3 separate regions of the Homo sapiens genome follow, and regions 2 and 3 are each reported to be linked to region 1. Evidence: microRNA targets listed by miRTarBase, many of them from high-throughput screens and not tested one by one. Region 1 holds a microRNA gene; each other region holds the end of a gene's coding sequence.

Region 1 (3,000 bases):
GCCTTGGCAGGGACATCACAGCAAAACACATGGCACTTGAGCATACAGCTATCTTTGTCACTTGCCACAAAAGCGAAGTCCCTAGCAGGGGCAGAGATGGGGCTGGGGTAGAAGCTGGTTAGAGGCAGGAGCCTGCAGGAGGCTGGAAAGTCAGGCTAGGGATATAGCAGGGATGGAGTAGGGACATCAGGGATGGGGCTCAGGATACCTGGTTTTCACTCACCTGTCACTGTTCCGGAAGCATGTGGGAGCACAGAAGGGAATCAGCCCAGCCTCTCGGACTCTCCCCAAACTGTCCCTGCTGAGCTGGGCCCACCCTCCCCAACCAGGGCTGGACCAGGCAGGGGAAGCAGTCCTGGGTCCACATCAGAGGATCTGTGTCCAGGGGTTCAAGTACTGGGGATCAGCATCAGTGGGGATCACAGCCTGCAGCCGGGAGGGAGAAGTAGCTCTTGCTTGGGGGATGTAGGCATCCTCACCGGCCCTTGGAGCTCCCCACGCCCCACACACGGATGTGCACCAGAGGCTGGCAGTGGATCAGACTGTGGTCCAGGGGATTCACTAGGCTCATGGCATCCTTCTTCAGGATCATCAGCATGTTCTGGCCCTGCCAAGGACAGAGGTCAGCCCAGAGCTCAGATAAAGGTCATTGCCATGAGAAATAGGAAATTCAGGGACAGCTACCTCTGCTGGGCCCTGGGCCCAAACCATTAAAGGGCCCAGCCAACTCACCTCACCCCAGGCACCATCTGGAGGCTGGCTCCGGCTGCGGGTCTGGGCCAGCTGCTGGATACAGTTATTGACTGCAATACTGCTCTTCCCCGGTGCCAGGTCCTCTTCAGGTACCTCTACCCAGCCCAGAGAGCGGACTGCAAAGCACTGACAGGTTGGGGGAAGGGACAGGAATTAATAAGGATGGAGTAGGGTGGCAGGTGCCACAATACATACTCCCTGTCTTCACCCTTGATCACCTCTGTTCAGTCCAATCCCACCCTTGTCTTTCCCTTGGGACCTCCCAATGCCCTCAGGCCCAAGTCACTACCTTAGCCCCTGGCTCCATGCTCTGGATGTAGGATTCCCCACCATACCAGGACAGAGAGTTACTGAAACAGAGCAGAGCTGTTAAGAGGACCACATTTCCTACAGTAGGGACACTGGTGAGGCCTAGACAACTTGATAAGCACAGGATGAGGGGCAAGACCCAGAATATAGCACCAGAAATATAAAACCAGAGCAGGGTAGAGCCCAGGACATATTAACGTAACATAAAGTGTGACTCAGAATTTGAGGGAAAATTCAGGACATAGGACCCAGACACAGGACATAGAATAAAAGTCACAAGGCTAGGTGCAGTGGTGGCTCACGCCTGTAATCCCAACACTTTGGGAGGCTGAGACGGGTGGATCATGAGGTCAGGATATCGAGACCATCCTGGCCAACATGGTGAAACCCCATATCTACTAAAAATACAAACATTAGCTGGGCATGGTGGCATGTGCCTGTAGTTTCAGCTACTCAGGAGGCTGAGGCAGGAGAATGACTTGAACCTGGGAGGCGGAGGTTGCAGTGAGCCAAGATCGTGCCACTGCACTCCAGCCTGGATGACAGAGTGAGACTCCATCTCAAAAAATAAAAAATAAAAGTCACAAAATAGAACAGGGTCCAATATGTGGACCAGAACCCCAAAGTGGGACAAGAGACCCTAGAACAGAGGACTTAATGGCCAAGGTCTAGAACATGATAGGTTAGGACCAAGAATATGAAAAACATGTAGCTACAAACAAGAGCTTAGAACAAGGGATAAAACTCAAAATACTGACAGTTAAGAACCTGGGACAGAGCCAAGAACGTAACAGAACCCAAAACATGTGACAGAATCCAGAACCTGGGCTGGAAAGCAGACCATGGGTCCAGCTGCATTTTTGAACACCATGGAACCCCAAGCCTTTCATTTTGCCTGGGCCACCCGTTACCTCCGGTCCAGTGAACTCTCCAGGCTGGAGAAGGATCTCCCTTTGGGGGGCCGCAGTCCCCAGATCCCCTCCGTTCCCTGTAGAGTGGGAGTTAGTCAGTTTAACAGCAGACCTAGGTCCACACATGGGCTCAGACCTCCTCCTCACACTCTACCTACCGTGCCTGGGTCCTCTGCATCTCCTAGTTCCCAGGTTGGGCGCTGCCACTGGGTGCTACCGCTGGGTACATGCCAGTAGTAAGTACCTGCAGCATCGTGGATCTTCCTCCAGCCAGGAGGCAGGCCAGCCTCCACCTCCAGACTGTGGTCCCCCCACAAGTCATCTACAGGAACACCGGATTAGAGAGGAGGGAGCATATGATTTGTGAGTTCAGAATAACATGCTGTCATAATCCCCTCTCCATCCCCAAAATGGGTCAGTTCTTAGGCTGAAGATCCAGGCTCCTCAATCTTGAAGACATCACATGTAAAGACCGGGTTCATTCGCCCCCTGGTCCCTACACAGAGAGGTATCCCCCACCGTCTTTGAGCCCCAGAGTAGCCTTTCGGATTCCCTCGTCCTCCCTCAGCTCCTGGTCTTCCCACCGGGCCCCTCCGTGCACACCATCGCAGTTGACCAGAATGATGGCCAGCATGTAATCCTTGCCCAGCATAACCCCGGCTGCTCCCCGCCAGCCTCTGCCGGCCCGCACTCTCAGCCCAGCGCGACCTCTGGAGCTACTGCGCCTGCAAGCCCAGCCTCTCTGCGCCGCAGGCTGCGGGGCCAGCTGGCGCCGCACAAATACGGGGCGGGACACGGGGCGGGACACGGGCCGGTCCCGGGGGAGGGCCTGAGCCGCACAGCCCGCCCAGGGGTGGTGCGTGTAAACGGGCGTCTGGATCCCCGAATGGTTGCGTGTTTCCGTGTGTGGGTCCGGGGGAGGCCCACGAACGCCAGCGAAACCGCTGACACCACCGCCCAACTATGAACTCATCAGGCGCCTGAAGACCGACACGCCGAACATGCGCCGCGCGCACTCGCGCACGAG
Region 2 (3,356 bases), not on the chromosome of region 1:
GGCATGAGCCACTGCGCCTGGTCAGTCCACAGATTCTTTTAAACTGTTTTTAGTTACTAAATTCAAACATACTTTGTATTTTTGTTTTAGAAAGAAGATCTTCTGGAGCCACAGGAACAGCTTCCCCCACCTCCTTTACCGCCTCCTGTTTCCCAGGTTGATGCTGCTATTGGATTACTAATGCCGCCTCTTCAGACCCCTGTTAATCTCTCAGTTTTCTGTGACCACAACTATACTGTGGAGGATACAATGCACCAGCGGAAAAGGATTCATCAGCTAGAACAGCAAGTTGAAAAACTCAGAAAGAAGCTCAAGACCGCACAGCAGCGATGCAGAAGGCAAGAACGGCAGCTTGAAAAATTAAAGGAGGTTGTTCACTTCCAGAAAGAGAAAGACGACGTATCAGAAAGAGGTTATGTGATTCTACCAAATGACTACTTTGAAATAGTTGAAGTACCAGCATAAAAAAATGAAATGTGTATTGATTTCTAATGGGGCAATACCACATATCCTCCTCTAGCCTGTAAAGGAGTTTCATTTAAAAAAATAACATTTGATTACTTATATAAAAACAGTTCAGAATATTTTTTTAAAAAAAATTCTATATATACTGTAAAATTATAAATTTTTTTGTTTGTAATTTCAGGTTTTTTACATTTTAACAAAATATTTTAAAAGTTATAAACTAACCTCAGACCTCTAATGTAAGTTGGTTTCAAGATTGGGGATTTTGGGGTTTTTTTTTAGTATTTATAGAAATAATGTAAAAATAAAAAGTAAAGAGAATGAGAACAGTGTGGTAAAAGGGTGATTTCAGTTTAAAACTTAAAATTAGTACTGTTTTATTGAGAGAATTTAGTTATATTTTAAATCAGAAGTATGGGTCAGATCATGGGACATAACTTCTTAGAATATATATATACATATGTACATATTCTCATATGTAAAGTCACAAGGTTCATTTATCTTTCTGAATCAGTTATCAAAGATAAATTGGCAAGTCAGTACTTAAGAAAAAAGATTTGATTATCATCACAGCAGAAAAAAGTCATTGCATATCTGATCAATAACTTCAGATTCTAAGAGTGGATTTTTTTTTTTTACATGGGCTCCTATTTTTTCCCCTACTGTCTTGCATTATAAAATTAGAAGTGTATTTTCAGTGGAAGAAACATTTTTCAATAAATAAAGTAAGGCATTGTCATCAATGAAGTAATTAAAACTGGGACCTGATCTATGATACGCTTTTTTCTTTCATTACACCCTAGCTGAAGGACATCCAGTTCCCCAGCTGTAGTTATGTATCTGCCTTCAAGTCTCTGACAAATGTGCTGTGTTAGTAGAGTTTGATTTGTATCATATGATAATCTTGCACTTGACTGAGTTGGGACAAGGCTTCACATAAAAAATTATTTCTTCACTTTTAACACAAGTTAGAAATTATATCCCATTTAGTTAAGTGCGTGATTTATATTCAGAACAACCTACTATGTAGCGTTTATTTTACTGAATGTGGAGATTTAAACACTGAGGTTTCTGTTCAAACTGTGAGTTCTGTTCTTTGTGAGAAATTTTACATATATTGGAAGTGAAAATATGTTCTGAGTAAACAAATATTGCTATGGGAGTTATCTTTTTAGATTTAGAATAACTGTTCCAATGATAATTATTACTTTTATATTTCAAAGTACACTAAGATCGTTGAAGAGCAATAGAACCTTTAAGACAGTATTAAAGGTGTGAAACAATGGCATTCAAAGTGTCTTTTGTAGAACTGGTTTTCATTGTAGTTCACTGCCATGCTGCCAGTGGATAGCACTGTGATTCATGCATATTTGATGTTTTATGAACCAGTATCTCAAAAATAGAAATAATGATTAGAAGATTACTTGAAGTTGGGCGGGGCGCCATGGCTCACGCCTGTAATCCCAGCACTTTGGGAGGCCGAGGCGGATGGATCACAAGGTCAGGAGTTCAAGACCAGCCTGGCCAATATGGTGAAACCCCGTCTCTACTAAAAATACAAAAACTAGCTGGGCATGGTGGCGAGTGCCTGTAGTCCCAGCTACTTGGGAGGCTGAGGCAGGAGAATTGCCTGAACCCGGGAGGTGGAGGTTGCAGTGAGCTGAGATTGCGCCACTACACTCCAGCCTGGGCAATAAAGCAAGACCCCGTCTCAAAAAAAAAAAAAAAAAAAAAAAAAGATTACTTGAAGTTACATAGTCTGATAACATCATTTAGAACTCATGCTGATCAGTCAGAAGGCTTTTACAGATTATTCATGGAACTCGAAGCTACAAAGTATTCAAGAAGTTTGGTTTTATATGTCATCTTTCTAGCAATTCCTGGAAGTACTCAGGAATATTTAGATTTATTCCTGAATATTTTGAAAAGTATATACCTTCGGCCGGGCACAGTGGCTCATGCCTGTAATCCCAGCACTTTGGGAGGCCAAGGCGGGTGGATCACCTGAGGTCAGGAGTTCAAGTCCAGCCTGACCAACATGGAGAAACCCTGTCTCTACTAAAAATACAAAATTAGTCAGGTGTGGTGTCGCATGCTTGTGATCCCAGCTACTTGGGAGGCTGAGGCAGGAGAATCGCTTGAACCTGGGAGGCAGAGGTTGCAGTGAGCGAGGGCGGTGCCATTGCATTCCAGCCTGGGCAACAAGAGCGAAACTCCGATCTCAAAAAAAAAAAAAAAGAAAAGTATATACCTTCAATCTAAGTACTCTTCTACATAAAAGACAAATTCTATGTGTGTGTCCCAGAATGAAGAATCCAGGTAAGATTATAAAAATGGAAATCATAATTACTTAGCATATTAGCATTATTATTTAACCTCAAGCTACTTTCTTTTCATAACAGACATAAATCCCCATTTGGAGAGAACTGAGCAAGCAGCATGTACACCAACTGCTTTCATTTAAATAATTTATCATAGTAAACAGAAGTTTGAGGTGCAGGTACTTATTTCTGAATTGGCTATTGTTTATAACATTGCCAAGAAAAGGAGGTCATTTAGGTAAAAATAGGTTCTGTTCAGGCATAGTAAACAGTCTGACATAAACAGGGACAAAGACTCAATTTTTTTTTTTTTGGAGAAGGAGTCTCGTTCTTGTTGCCCAGGCTGGAGTGCAATGGCGCTATCTGGGCTCACTGCAACGTCTGCCTCCCGGGTTCAGGGGATTCTCCTGCCTCAGCCTCCCGAGTAGCTGGGATTACAGGCATGCGCCACCACGCCCAGCTAATATTGTATTTTTAGTAGAGACGGGGTTTCTCCATGCTGGCCAGGCTGGTCTTGAACTCCCGACCTCAGGTGACCAGCCTGCCTTGGCCTCCCAAAGTGTTGGGAAT
Region 3 (3,356 bases), not on the chromosome of region 1:
ATTTTTGGTAGAGACAGAGTTTCATCATGTTGGCCAGGCTGGTCTCGAACTCCTGACCTCAAGTGATCCACCCATCTTGGCCTCCCAAAGTGCTGGGATTACAGGCATGAGCCACCATCCCTGGCCATAAATGTTATTTTTAAAATACATAACTTTTGTCATCTGGATATTTCTATAGGACTCAGGCTGTTTTCTTCAGTCTCCTTTGTCTTTTCTCAAAGTCATTCACTTCATCTTCCTTCTCTCATTTTCTTCCCTAGTACGTCTTTGTACAAGTTATGACAAACATGTTAATAATATATTATATATATGAAGTATCCTTTCAAAGATTCTGGACATCACATACGCTTTCTATTTGTTGATTATATACAGAATAATATTATACATTTAATATGATAATTCTACATGATGGTATAATAATATATTTAATATATTACTGTTCACAGAATAAAATGCTGGAGACCCTAGGTTACCTAATGGAAGTCCTCGGCCCCCTAATGACTTTTTCCCTTCTCTGCAGGTGTCAAAGTCGTGTTCTCAGGCCACTACCACAGGAATGCCGGGGGTACCTACCAGAACCTCGACATGGTGGTGTCATCTGCCATTGGATGCCAGCTGGGCAGAGACCCCCACGGGCTCCGAGTCGTGGTGGTCACCGCCGAGAAAATTGTTCACCGATACTACAGTCTAGATGAGCTGAGTGAGAAAGGAATAGAAGACGATCTCATGGATTTGATCAAGAAAAAATGACGCTCCTTCCCGTTCCCGTTCACTTTTCACTTGCACTATTTTTTTATTTTGCCAGAAACAGCAGCTGCACACAACCTCTTGCTGAAATATAAAAATAGCCCAGGCAGGTTTGTGAATTTATGTCCTTTTGCATAAATCAGAGAGCTGGGGCCCTGTCCTGAATTATATTCAAAATAGAACTGCATTTCCTTTAAAATGGAGCGAATGATCCTGGAAATCAGTTTTTAAAATATTAGACTATCTCTGCATGGATGTTTGAATAAATTCTCCTAATGCTGTGTTTCTCAACTCCACTTTTGAATTGGATTGTATTCTGGTTAGCATATGGTCAAAGTCTGCCTATCGACCTCAATTCCAATCTGACAGCCAAGTATGATCTTTGATAATTCCTTAAACAAACTACACCTGATTGTATTAAATTGTGGTCACGATTCCCAAAACGCTAGGCAAAACAAAGTTCATCTCCTTTCCTTTCCAGCGGAACGAACAGCTGTCTCCCTTGTTGTGAGAGCCATGCAGACTTATTTTGACAAGGAGCCAAGTAGGCACCATTTACTGTTCAATTCTGAGACTTCTGATGATAGGAACAGAATGCAGTTGATACAGCTCGGAGCTTAAATTTGCCTTCCTGGGTGCCTAGAAAAGTCACCTTTGCACATAAATTGGCCATTTCTGAAAATCTCCTCCAAGAGACTGAAACCAAAGCTCTAAAACGCCGCTTCTTCAGTCTCTGGGGAGCACGTTGAGTTGGTTCACATCCACATTCTGGCTGTGTAGCCACTCCACAGATGGGTGGTCTCTTGGGATCAGAATGCCCCTCCACTCATGAGACTCTTCATTTTGTCCACTTTGACAGGAAAAGTGGGAATGTATGCAGAGCTCTCAAAAGAAACAAAAAAGGCCAAAACGGTGCCTTCAGCCACATCCTCTGAATTGGCCCTGACTTGGACTAAATGCACTAATGCAAAATCCCTTGACAAAAGCGCATAGGTTATTTCAAACCAGCATTGTTTTTTATGTAACCTGTTTTACCGCATCTTCTCAGCAGCTTCTGACCACTGCTCAATTTTCTCCTTTACAGCCATTGTTCTGGTGGACAAATAACCTAGGTACTCCAAATCCTGGCAGGAAAAATATACAGCATTATGAAACAGCACTCAGTAATCCTAAAATGATTTCCAAAGCTGGTTACACATGACCTGCAAAGTCTATTAAATTAAAAGACTTTCTCATTACAGAGTTTAGTCAACGTAGCAAAACCATGGGAAATTAAATGGAAAGATAATTAAATATGTAAATTCATAAGGAACAAAAGACGAGAAGTTAATTATACAATAGGCTGGTGACACCAGAGTTCATTGTTATGTGCCACAAGAAAATTAAATTTTTTAAAAAACTAGAACGCTCTTCTTTTAGTGTTTTGCTGAAATCCTGTTTTGTATTTGTTTCTTTACAACAGGTGTAGGTATAGGAGGTCAAGAAAAGGAGTTCGGTAAAGGGCATAGCTAATAACAACCACACATTGGGCCAGGCACAGTGGCTTACGCCTGTAATCCCAGCACTTTGGGAGGCTGAGACGGGCAGATCACCTGAGATCAGGAGTTTGAGAACAGCCTGGCCAACATGGTGAAACTCCATCTCTACTAAAAATACAAAAATTAGCCAGGCATGCTGGTGCACACCTGTAATCCCAGCTACTCGGGAGGCTGAGGCAGGAGATCGCTGGAACTCAGGAGGCAGAGGTTGCAGTGAGCCAAGATCATGCCACTGCACTCCAGCCTGGGCAACAGAGCAAGACTCTGTCTCAAAAAAAAAAAAAAAAAACCACACACACACACATTGAGACTTGAGATGTGGTGACACTTGGATCATAAACAGAGGGCTTCGATTCCAGGATGGGGGTTCCTCCAGGGGGAAATGAAAAGGAGCTCTCACTCTGTTCTTACGTATGCACAATGCTCTGAATTGTGGCACATGGGTTTGCAGAAGGATAATGGAGATAATTGAAAGTAATGAAAATGAAACCAAATCTCCTTCCCCAAAAACTTAAAAGAACTGATTCAAAAGTACCCCAAGAATATGCAAAGAAAAGGGAATCACATCAACAGATGATTGGATAAAGAACATGTGGTATGTATACATAATGGAATACTATTCAGCCACTAAAAAGAATGAAACCATGTCTTTTGCAGCAACCTGGATGGAACTGGAGGCTGTTATCTTAAGTGAAATAACTTAGAAGTAGAAAGTCGAATACTTCATGTTCTCACTCATAAATGGGAGCTACATAAAGTGTACCCATGAACATAGAGTGTGGAACAAACATTGGAGACTCAGAAGGGTGGGAGGAGGGTAAGGGATGAGAAAGTACCTGATGGGTACAGTGTACACTTTTCTGGTGTTGGTTGCAGGAAAAGCCTGGACTTCACCACTTCGCAATATATCCGTGTAACAAAACTGCACTTGTACGCCTTATATTTATACAAATTTAATTTTTTAAAAGGGAAGAGAGAATCATATTAATTTCTCACCACTTTTTAAGTAAGCAAACAGCAGTATTTCCCAGAGGCAAGAGGTTCAGCAAGAAGTCAGGAAATGTTTTTGTA

The links. Region 1 holds the annotated microRNA hsa-miR-6831-3p (UGACUAACUCCCACUCUACAG, at 2,051-2,071, opposite strand). A microRNA usually pairs through its seed, bases 2 to 8, with sites in the 3' UTR of a target mRNA and lowers its output. Matches are read on the target gene's strand: a 7mer-m8 pairs with bases 2 to 8, a 7mer-A1 pairs with bases 2 to 7 and ends in A, and an 8mer does both.
Region 2: miRTarBase lists THAP1 as a target of hsa-miR-6831-3p. The part of its 3' UTR that is shown has no 7-base or 8-base seed match.
Region 3: the mRNA of CPPED1 is a reported target of hsa-miR-6831-3p. Seed matches in the 3' UTR shown: 7mer-A1 at 1,992-1,998.

The regions. Positions count from the first base shown.
Region 1 is chr5:140,561,621-140,564,620 of GRCh38, forward strand. MIR6831 (microRNA 6831) reads right to left here and starts at 2,131; the gene lies at 2,051-2,131. APBB3 (amyloid beta precursor protein binding family B member 3) reads right to left here and starts at 2,978. Exons shown (of 13, transcript NM_133173.3): 1 at 2,577-2,978; 2 at 2,132-2,295; 3 at 1,974-2,050; 4 at 1,043-1,103; 5 at 733-879; 6 at 480-607; 7 at 224-229; 8 at 1-81. The coding sequence starts at 2,625. RefSeq lists enhancers at 2,136-2,195, 2,804-3,000 and a silencer at 2,666-2,845.
Region 2 is chr8:42,835,071-42,838,426 of GRCh38, reverse strand. It overlaps THAP1 (THAP domain containing 1), which reads left to right. Exons shown (of 3, transcript NM_018105.3): 3 at 91-1,753. The coding sequence ends at 465. Among named protein-coding and RNA genes, the nearest start is that of THAP1, 6.6 kb to the left of the region's middle.
Region 3 is chr16:12,662,280-12,665,635 of GRCh38, reverse strand. It overlaps CPPED1 (calcineurin like phosphoesterase domain containing 1), which reads left to right. Exons shown (of 4, transcript NM_018340.3): 4 at 521-3,356. The coding sequence ends at 750. Among named protein-coding and RNA genes, the nearest start is that of SNX29-AS3, 53 kb to the right of the region's middle.